Linked DNA regions of Homo sapiens: region 1 is linked to region 2. A link means that fine-mapping ties the variant in region 2 to the expression of a gene that starts in the linked region. Tissue or cell type: whole blood. Region 2 holds a variant in brackets; the other region holds the start of a gene. All regions are shown on one strand. Distances are from middle to middle.

What was found. PIP is the estimated chance that this variant, and not a neighbour inherited with it, causes the effect.
Region 1: CBX6 starts here. The variant in region 2 is fine-mapped to the expression of CBX6 in whole blood (TOPMed, PIP above 0.99).

The regions. Positions count from the first base shown.
Region 1 is chr22:38,869,422-38,874,530 of GRCh38, forward strand. It overlaps CBX6 (chromobox 6), which reads right to left and starts at 2,795. Exons shown (of 5, transcript NM_014292.5): 1 at 2,701-2,795; 2 at 2,481-2,524; 3 at 2,271-2,336; 4 at 2,059-2,125. The coding sequence starts at 2,769. RefSeq lists silencers at 2,417-2,466, 2,567-2,716, 2,747-3,006 and enhancers at 3,001-3,551, 3,552-4,101, 3,938-5,109, 4,954-5,109.
Region 2 is chr22:38,932,402-38,937,596 of GRCh38, forward strand. No RefSeq gene overlaps it. Among named protein-coding and RNA genes, the nearest start is that of APOBEC3A, 23 kb to the right of the region's middle. RefSeq lists an enhancer at 3,922-4,743. The variant C/G (reference allele first, on the strand shown) is at 2,538.

The DNA.
Region 1 (5,109 bases), 63 kb before region 2:
CACCTGCTCAGCACAGTGCCTGGCACGCAGCAAATAACTGAACAGACCTACCCATGGGTGGTGGACTTATAAGCAGTGATCTTTTTCCAATGTATGCTTGGCATACATTGACATTTCTTACTTTATACTTTCTATATATTATTATTTTTTAAAGGGTTTACCCTTCCTCTTCCTCCCCACATGGAGAACTCTTTGAAAGTGGGACCTGGGTCTGCCTGATGAATTAAAAATAACTGTAGCCAACATGCTTATTGCACCCTGACCAGGTGACAGGCATAGCTCTGTGGGCTTGGCAAGCACCGTAGATGGTGTGAAGGTTTAAGCACCTGAACTCTACCATGGCCTCTCCCCATGTCTGTGGGCAAGTTACTGGACACCTCTGGCCCTGTTTCCCCATGCGTGAAACAGGGAGGATGGAAGCTATCTCATGGGCTCCTGTTTGCTTCAGAGTAGTTCCTGGCAGAAAGCGCTGAGTGTAATTTGCTGACTCTGCCATACTGCCTCTCAGGGAGCCCCAGAACAATGTGTTCAGCCCAAGCTAATCTCCATAGCCCCTCACAAACATCCACATCACTCTCAGGCTACCTGTTTCTTAGGGTCCAGATAAAAAAGTCCTACTATCTGTGTCTCTATCCCCTGCCACGCCAACTCTGCAGCCTTCATAGTTTCCTGTGTGTGTCTGCCTTCCCCCTTTAACCTGACATGGACTACTCAAGGCACAAGATGAAGAAAAGGAGACAGGATGAAGCCAGGAAGCTGGACCTCGGGTAAGTCACTTTCCCTTCCTGGGCCTTGATTTTTTATCTGTGAAATGGGGATAATACTCCTTACTTCTTGGAACTGTTGAAAGAATTAAAGGAGATAATCCATGTGGGGGCTCAGCCCTGTATTAGGCCCACAGCCAGCTCAGGAACCAAAAGAACTATCAAGAAAAAAAGGCGTTCTGTGTATCAATGCTCATGGTCATACTCGCTTCGCCGCTAGAGGGTGCCCCAGCTGCACTGAGAGGCTGTCACACAGCCCACCAGCCTTCCAGCTGCTCCGCCCATCCCTCCCCAAGAGAAGCATCAGGGTTAAGGTTACTCCCTGGATCCCCTAGGATGTGCGTCGCTTGAGGGTGGGGGTTATAAAAATATGAAATTCTGGAAACCAACATTTCTTTCACTTCTGCTTCTCTTCTCCGAAAAAGAGTCCTCCCACAAAGTCACCGGCTGTCGGGTGGGAGGGGGCCCTGAGGCATCCGTAGCACTACAGGAAGACAGGGGGCCCACTGAGTCCCACCTGCAGCCGTGCCTGCCACCTAGGGCCATCTTGCCCTTCCTTTCCCAGACTCTGTTTTTCCTTGTCAAAATAAAATAAAAACCCAAATCCTCCAAGATGGCTTCCTCTGGAAGTTCTTCCCTCCCTAGCAGAGACTAATATGCTATGCTCTCACTCCCACATCCCCATCCCCCAGAAATGGCCGGGAGTGGGGGGAAACTGAGGCTCAGAGCCCTAAAGTTAGTGGCCCAGCCTGGGTGATAAATTCAAAGTAAAATGATTTGAGGTCAAATTCAAGTTGGATCCCCAAGAAAGGAGGGGAGCCATGAAGAACAAATCCTGAAAGACTGAACGGGGGAAGCTGGGGGCAGGGAGGCAGGTGGTCCCCCAAATCCTCTCCTTGTGCCCTGCCAGGAGGTGGGACCCCACTCACTCTCCCCCTGGGTTCCAACTCCCAGCACAGTCATAACAGCTCAAACAAATGCCCCCTTCCCATGGGCATCCCCCACCTGCCTCAGCCACCCCCTTTCCTGGAGCCCTAAAGGCATCCCCAGCCCCTGGTTTCAACAGGGAGGATTATCCCCAGTCCCAAAACCCTCTTGTTGAAGCTGATGCTGGCTGAGGCCTGCCATCAGGGGCTTCTGGGGGGGCTCACAACCACCCCCTGCCCAGCTGGGGCCCCTCTGAAAAGGCCGGCCCGCTTGGGCGGCCGCGTATCTGTCCCTCCCTTCCAGGCCCCGTGCTGTGCCGGGGCTGGGGGCCCGAGAGGGGGATGCTGCTGGGGCTGGGCCAGGTTACCTTCAGGAGGAAAGTTTTGGGTTTGGGTCCCCTCTTCTTGGGCCCATACAGCTCACGCTCCCTCTCCCTGCGGCCGAAAAACACCAGAGGTTAAAAAGAGCCCCTTCCCGGGCCCCACTCCGCGCTGCCCTCCCCGGCTCTCCCGCTTCCCCGCGCGGCGCCCCAGCCGAGCCTCGGCCTCGCAGCCCCTGCCAGCTTCCCCAACAACTCACTTTTGTTCGAAGGCTGCAATGAGCCGCGAGTCCAGGATGTTCTCCTCGGGCTCCCAAGTGCTGTACCTGCCGAGTCACAAACGCACAAAATCAGGATGAAGACCAGAGAGGGACAGGCACGCGGCGAGAGCAAGAGCGCGCACCCCCACCCCAGGCCCCGGTGCCCGCTGCCTCCCCTCCCGCGACGCCCCCGGACCCCGCGACACTCACTTGATCGCCCACCCCTTCCATTTCACCAGGTACTCGATGCGTCCCTGAAAAACAGAGGGGAGAAAAACGGGGGTGGGGGTGGGGAGGATGCGGGGACGCGAGGAGGCGGCGGCGCGGGGCTGGGCGAGGGAGCCGGGCTAGCGGGACCGCTTCGCCCCGAGGGCCCCCGGCCCCGGCCCCGGCTGCGGACAGCGGCGGCCCGCCCCGGGCGGCGGCTCACCTTTCGGATCCGCCGTTTGATGATGGATTCGGCCGCGAAGACCCGCTCGCCCACTGCAGACAGCTCCATCTTGCTCAGCGGCACCCACAGCCCATAATACTCCCTGCGCCCGCGGCCGGTGCGGCACCGCTCGCGCACGCGCCGCAGCGCCCAGGCCCCGGCGGGCGGGAGCGCGGCGGGGCGCGCGCTCGCGTTCCAGCTGCGGGCCGTCACGTGATCCTCGCGGCTGGCGCGCGGTTGCCAGGACCTCCCCCTCCCCCGGGGCGGTTGCTAGGGAAAGTCGGCGCTCGCGGGGCGGGGGCGCGCGCTGGCTCTTAAAGGGGCCGCGCGGGCGGAGGGAGCAATTGCCGGCCGACCCGATGGGTGCCCGGCTTGTGGGCACGCTGCGGCCTTACGCTTATCACCCCCCCTCACATCTTGCCGGCGCCCGATCGCTGACACCCTCTCCTTGCCTCTTAATCCCCACGCGAGTCTCGCCAGGCCCCGGGCGGAGAAGGGCTGTGGAGCCCGAGTCTCGCCGCCACCGCGCATCTCCCGCAGCAGCCTGCAAACAGTTAAATATGATGCAGCAGAAATGCAGTTGCTGTTGCCTTGCCAGGCCTTGCGGGAATTTCTTTAAAACATCGCCCCCCACCCATTATTTATGTATTCGTGGGAGGGTGGTTTTGTAACCAGTTCAGAAGAGTTAAAACAAAAACGCCACCGCAGGAAGGGGGTGTGCGGCGAATGGGGCCGAGGAAGGCCGGAGTGACCGTGGGCATCTGTCTGCGGCCGGGGTCTCGGGCGGCACCTGTCCTCGCCCAGGAGACCGGGGAGGATTCGGCGGGGCCGGTGTGGCAGTGGGGGAGGGAGAGGGACCGCGGGCAGGAACGGGCTCCCCGCACTCCGCCTTGGGCCCACAGCGGGTCATCATCTGGTCATTCGGCAGAAACCGCCTTCGCGGTCATATCTGTGTTTTCCGATTCCCAGCACCCCTCCCGGCCCCCCGACCTGGCCGCGTCCCTCTCCCCGCCCGCAGCTGCGCGAAGCTTCCGCCATTGCTCTGGGGAGCCCAGATCCCAGCTTCCCACTTGAGGAGGGGCGGGGGATCGAGCTGGGGCTGTCCAGGAACGGACACACAAAAAATAGCCCTGCCGCGCAAAACGCTCCACTTTTTAAATGTTGAAATTACTTGAACTTTATTTCCCATTATGTTAGTAGTCTTGTTCTTTGTAAAACAATTTTAAAAATACAGATAAAACAACTGTCCATAACCCCCATAAAACCATTGTTAACATCTTCACCAATCTTCCAGCCTCTGCTCTATGCGTACATAAACTCACGTACACCTATGTATGTATGTATATACATACACATACACATTGTCTGTAGATTTAATTTTTTAACAAAATGGGATCACGCTATTCACACTGTTCTGGAATCTGCTTTTCTCCCTTAATGCTATAAAGTGGACATCTTTCAGTGTCATTAAATACAGATTTCACCATCCTTCCAGTGACCACCTTGGGGCTGAGATGGGGTGGGGAGGAATGGGGATTGTGAAGAGTCAGGGTTGTGTCTTGCGAACATCAATGGCTCATTAGGAAAGATTTTTGCGTTTCTGTGCTACAATGCCAATTCTTGGGTTTCAAATCCACCATAGCAAAATGTTAGTCTTTTTCTCCCAGCAGATTTGTCCAATTATTACCTTGAGAGAAATCCCTCTCCTCACTTAAAATCAGTATGTTCCAGGGAAACAGCTATTTGCTGGCCAGCCCAAGGTGAGCTGCTGTGGTAAAAATAGAAATGTCCTCCTGGGAGATGTGGGTGGTGGTGGGTGAGCAGGTGAGAGGAGTGGGTATGACAGTGTGTGTGTGTTCAGGCTGACGGAGACAGGCGGGGGATGAAGCAGGTGAGTCCACTTGTTGATTCATTCAGCAGTGTTTGTGAGCCCTTGTGAAGCACCAGGCTTTGTGTGAAACCATCAGGAAACAAAGGTGCCCCAGGCTGAGGAGCTGTCAGTGGAGTGAGAACGGCACCTGTCACACAGTGTGACTAATGCTAGAATAAAGGTGTAGGAGTTTCGTGTTGCTGCTCTCACAAATTAACACAAGCTCAGTGGCTTAAAATGACTCACATTTGTTATCTGATGACTCTGGAGGCGGGAAGTCCCAAATCAGTGTTACTGGGCCCAAGTGAAGGTATCCTCAGGGCTGGTCCCTTTTTGGAGGGTCAAGGAGAGTATCTGTTCCGTGCCTCATCCAGCTTCCAAATGTTGCTGGCATTTCTTGGCTCATGGCTTCATCACTCAAATCTCTGTTTCCACGATCCCTTTGCTCACTTCCTGCTTCTTTCTTTCTTTTGTTTTTGTTTTTGAGATGGAGTCTTGCTCAGTCACCCAGGTGGGAGTGCAGTGGCACAATCTCGGCT
Region 2 (5,195 bases):
TGTTATAGCAGCCCCAATGGACGAAGACAATGGTCATGTTATCTGCAGACAAAGACAGCTTTATTTCCTTGCTCCTGATCTGTATACCTTTTATTTCTTTTCCTGTCTTATTGCATTAGTTAGGACTTCCAGTAAGATGTTGAAAAGCAGTGTGAGAGAGGGGGCATCCTTGCTTTGTTCCTGATCTTAGTGGAAAAGCTTCTAGTTTCTCAATTTGCCTCAATTTTCACAGCTGGTATTTTGTCACTGGCTACTGGCTACCTGCTATGACTATTTCCCCTAATAAGTTAAGATTCGTTTCAATACAATGTATAACTCTTGAAGCTGGTGACTTTTAGGGAGGCATTGTTAAACAAATGCAAATAGTAAATCCATTTTATCATGAAAGCTGAATTTGATTTAGCATGCTCAGTTGCCAACTCCCTTTATCCATAATCTCCCTTTGCATGGAATAATTTTGAAACCTATTTGATTCAATGTTATTTTTTGAAGTATTTTCAGTTTTTGAATTCAGTGACACCTCTTCAATTAAATTTGCCTGTCTACCAATGACCACAGGATTGGACTCTAATCTTGCAAACTATCTGAATTTGCCTAGTGCTTGTATTCTGGGCAACTTGCAAACTTCCCAAGACTTCTATTTGTATAATGAAACAGGATACAGTTGTCACACTTTGAATCTGTGGTTATTTAATCTGATTCTGGAGCTCACTTGAGCACAATTAGAGGAAAGACTCTAAGAAGATTTAGTTTTTTTAAAAGAATGAGCCAAACATTTCAGGCTACAACAGTCAACCCTATATAGATAACAAACAATGTCTACCATCTCAAGCCTCCCAAAGTTGCAATGCCGGGGCTACCATTTGTGCTCTCTGAGTGGTGGCTGGACAAACTTGGGCAGCTAACCTTTACAATCCTACGTGCCTTCCAAATTTAAAAAAAAAGAAAAAAACAAAACAGACAAGAATTAGTGATTATAAACTCATACTTGCAGGCTTGAGGTAGACGCTATCCTGCGTGTTTTGTAAACTGGTGATATTTTACCAAGGGCCGAGGTAGGAGGAAATGGAAATTTGGTGTTTAATGGCTACAGAGTTTCCATTTGGGATGATGAAAAAGTTATGGAGATGGACGGTGGTGATGGTTGCACAACACTGTGAATGTACTTAATGGTGAATTTGATGTTGTGTGTATCTTACTATACATTACTTTTGTTTTTATTTTTATTTTATTTTTTTGAGACGGAGTTTCACTCTGTTGCCCAGGCTGGAGTGCAGTGGTGCAATCTCGGCTCACCGCAACCTCTGCCTTTCGGGTTCAAGCGATTCTCCTGCCTCAGCCTCCCAAGTAGCTGGGATTACAGGCGCGTGACACCACGTCTGGCTAATTTTTGTATTATTAGTAGAGACAGGGTTTCACCATGTTGGCCAGGTTGGTCTCGAACTCCTGACCTCAAGTGATCCACTCGCCTCGGCTTCCCATAGTGCTGGGATTACAGCGTGAGCCATTGCGCCTGGCCCATGCCACACTTTTTTAAAAGGCCTTCTGTGTGCTGATTCTGCTGCCTGCTCACCCCTGTTTCTGCTCCTCTTGGCCCTAAGGCCACCTCCCTGAAGCAACAGCAGGTTGCAGTTTCTGGCCTCTCCTCTCCCACACCTGGCTTCTACTCGCCTCTCTCCTCTGCTCGGCTCTGCTTTCTGCCTGCCATGCCTTTCTCTTCCTCTTCACCTTCTCATTCCACTCCCATCTTTCTGACTTAGGAACTGAACATTTGGGAATCAGATGCCCAATGAAAACCAGCTGTGGGAGTCATAGACGGTCTCAGCCCTTCCCCTCTCTTTTCTTTTCATTTGCAGCCAAGTAGCCATTAAGTCAAAAGGCACGGGGCAGGATCTGGGGACCCTGGAATTAATTATTGACATTTACCTTGGCTTGGCCCCCAGCAGCTTTGATGCAAACTCCACCCTTGTTGGGAGCCCCATCCCCTGCCCCACACCACCCAAGAGCATTTCTTTTCTTTTCCTTTTCTTTTTTTCTTTTTTCTGTTTTTTTTTTTGAGACAGAGTCTCGCTCTTTTCGCCCAGGCTTGAGTACAGTGGCGTGATCTCAGCTCACTGCAACCTCCGCCTCCTGGGTTCAAGCGATTCTCCCTGCCTTAGCCTTCGGAGTAGCTGGGATTACAGGCGCCCACCACCACGCCTGGCTAATTTTTTTGTATTTTTAGTAGTGATGGGGTTTCGCCTTGTTGGCCAGGCTGGGCTTGAACTCCTGACCTGAGGTGATCCGCCCACCTTGGCCTCCCAAAGTGCTGGGATTACAGGCATGAGCCACCATGCCCAGCCCTTAATAATGTTTTCTGATGATAAAAACAACACTCCCTCATCACAGGCAATTTGAAAAGCAGAGAAAAGTTGCAAAAGGAAATTATCCCTATTACCACCTAGAGATGGTGAATACTTGAATTTTTTGTTTAAACTTTGAATTTTATTTCAAATTGACAGAAAATTGCATAGAAAGAGGATCCGTATACCCTTTAC[C/G]CAGATTCATCAGCTGTGAACATTTCCCCGGTATGCTTTAACCCTGTGTTTGTTCTATCAATCATGTGTTTCTCATTCGGATTATAAAATTGACACTTTGCTCTATTCTAGTGTTCCTCAGCTTTGGTCTCTTTGGTGTTTGACCACGATTATGTGACAGATGGAGCCTGGCCACCATGTCCCTGGCTGTACCCCAGGCCCCAGCCTAGCCCTCATTTGCACCATGGGGTGTGATCATCCCCAGCTCCCGGGCACCGTGCCATGGCAAAGTCAGGTGTGGCCATGCCAGGGCTGCGGGCAGCCTGCCAACAAGACTGCAGGTTCTGCCTTTATAGCAGGGCGTGCACCAGCGCTTCACTGTTCCTGCCTTCTGTCCTTGTGACCTTGTAAGATAAGGGCGTTGGGCAAGGAAAGTGCAGGTAGGAGCAAGGGAAATGAAGGAGATGTGAATGAAATAGTTCGATTCAGGTAGATCTGGGCATCACCAGGCCCGAGGAAAGGTGTATTTTCACTGATGAAGGAAACCATGTTTTTGTTGTTGTTGCTGTTGTTGTTTGTTTTTTGTTTGTTTGAGACAGAGTCTTGCTCTGTTGCCAGGCTGGAGTGCAGTGGCGCACTCTCGGCTCACTGCAAACTCCACTTCCCGGGTTCAAGCGATTCTCCTGCCTCAGCCTCCCAAGTAGCTGGGATTACAGGGGCGCACCACCACGCCTGGCTAATTTTTGTATTTTTAGGAGAGACGAGATTTCAACATGTTGGCCAGACTGGTTTTGAACTCCTGACCTCAGGTGATCCGCCCGCCTCGGCCTCCCAAAGTGCTAGGATTACAGGCCTGACCCATCGCACCTGGCCATCGCACCTTAAAACATTTAAGACATGTTTTAAATGCTGAAACCAAATGGCCAACGATCGTATCTAAAAGGGAAGATATAATCAGAGATTTTGAGACATCTTTTAGTTCCCTAGGAATGGAATCCTCCTGAAAATATGGAAGTTGAGTATTCTTTCTTTTTAGTTTTTTCAGCGACGTCGTGGATACAATTTCTTCAGACTTGTTCTACTTTATTCATGTTCTACATTATCAGAGATTCTGTGGATGCATCACTTTAATGACAGTTATAATATTTTAAGCATTGTTAAATTAGATGGCAGTTAGAATAAGAACAATCAGTAAGCTGGACTTAAGGGTTAGTAGAACACTCTTCTCACAGTTGACAGTGTACTCATAGGAAATAGTATAACCTTGGCTGAGGTACCTGCTTTTTGAGTCATAAGATCTGAAATAGGGACATTTTCTGTACATTTTTGTAAAGTTTGCTGAAGTAGTTTAAAACCCATTTTGACATAGTTTCAGTTCCACCTGAATCAGCATTCTGAAAAGAACATTCCAGGGGTTTCCTGAAACTTACAGAGCTGAAAAGCTAGTGTGCCTCCCGGAGTCAGGCTGGAGAAGCAGATTTGGGGGCTGCAGCAGAGGTGTCCTGGCTGGGGTGAAGGGCAGAGCCAGTTCCTGGAGGGAGGGAGCCCAGAGAAAGGGCAGGTGGCCAGGGCTGGGCTAGAGAAGACCTAGAAAGAGGCCAGGAGGAGAGGAGGAGCCTTTAGGGGAAGGAGCCGAGTTCACCACCCTGGAGGTCCCAGGAAGCAGAGAAAAGGTGACGCTGACTCACTGCTGCAGGGGTCGGGAGTACCTGGGTCTCAGCTCTGCCCTTGAGTCCATCACGCTTCGCCTCTGTCTCTGAGTCTGGCCTCTGCATCTTCCCGCTCCCATTACCAGTTTTGTTTGCATTTTCTGTCCCAGGAAGCTCTCTTTGGCCTCTGGAGCTGCGTATATCTGTAGACAGCGGACCCTGCTGCCACATGGCTGGGCCTGCCGCTTCTGTGGCTTGGTCACACTCACATGCACGTACGTGTGCATGAACACGCTCGCACACACCCACATGCATACACGTGTGCACACATGCATGTACAGGCACACACGCACACATGTGCATGCGTGTGTACGAACACACACATGCACACACGCAGAATCAGAAAAGGATCCTGCCCATAGCTCACCCCAGACTCCCCTGGGTGTCGCATCTTGTACCACCCAAAGTCAGGGTGTCCCAGCCCTCTCCAGGAGGCCTTTACTTCCCAGGCTCTGTCATTCCCAGAAGCAGGGGGCTAGCATGTGACAAGGAGTGCTCAGGCTCAGGTATGGTCAGTCTGGGCAGCAGGGACCAAATCCCAGTGGAAAGGCGCAGGCCGGTGAGTGAGTGAAGGCCTGGTGTCCATCTGATGCTTCCAGAGGGCAGGGGCCAGCTTGGACTTATCTGCACCACACAGGGCCCCAGCCCAGGGCTTCCCACGGCATGGGTGAACTGGGTCAGGTGGGCTTCACAAGGTGTGGGAAGAGAGAAGACGCTGGCCTGGGAATTGGCCACCTGGCTTTCTTTCCTGGCCCTATGGAGGGAAGGGAAGGAACATTGAACTCCCCCAAGTCAGGCCCTGGACTGAGTCTCCCACTCAACCGTAGAAGCCATCATGCTGGGAAGTGGTTTTATCCCCGTTGAAGAGAGGACACAGTTCCACTGAGAGGTGAGGTCGTGATGAATGTGTCCATGGGTGTGTGCGTGTGTGTGTGGGTGTGTGCGTGTGGGTGTGTGTGTGGGTGTGCAT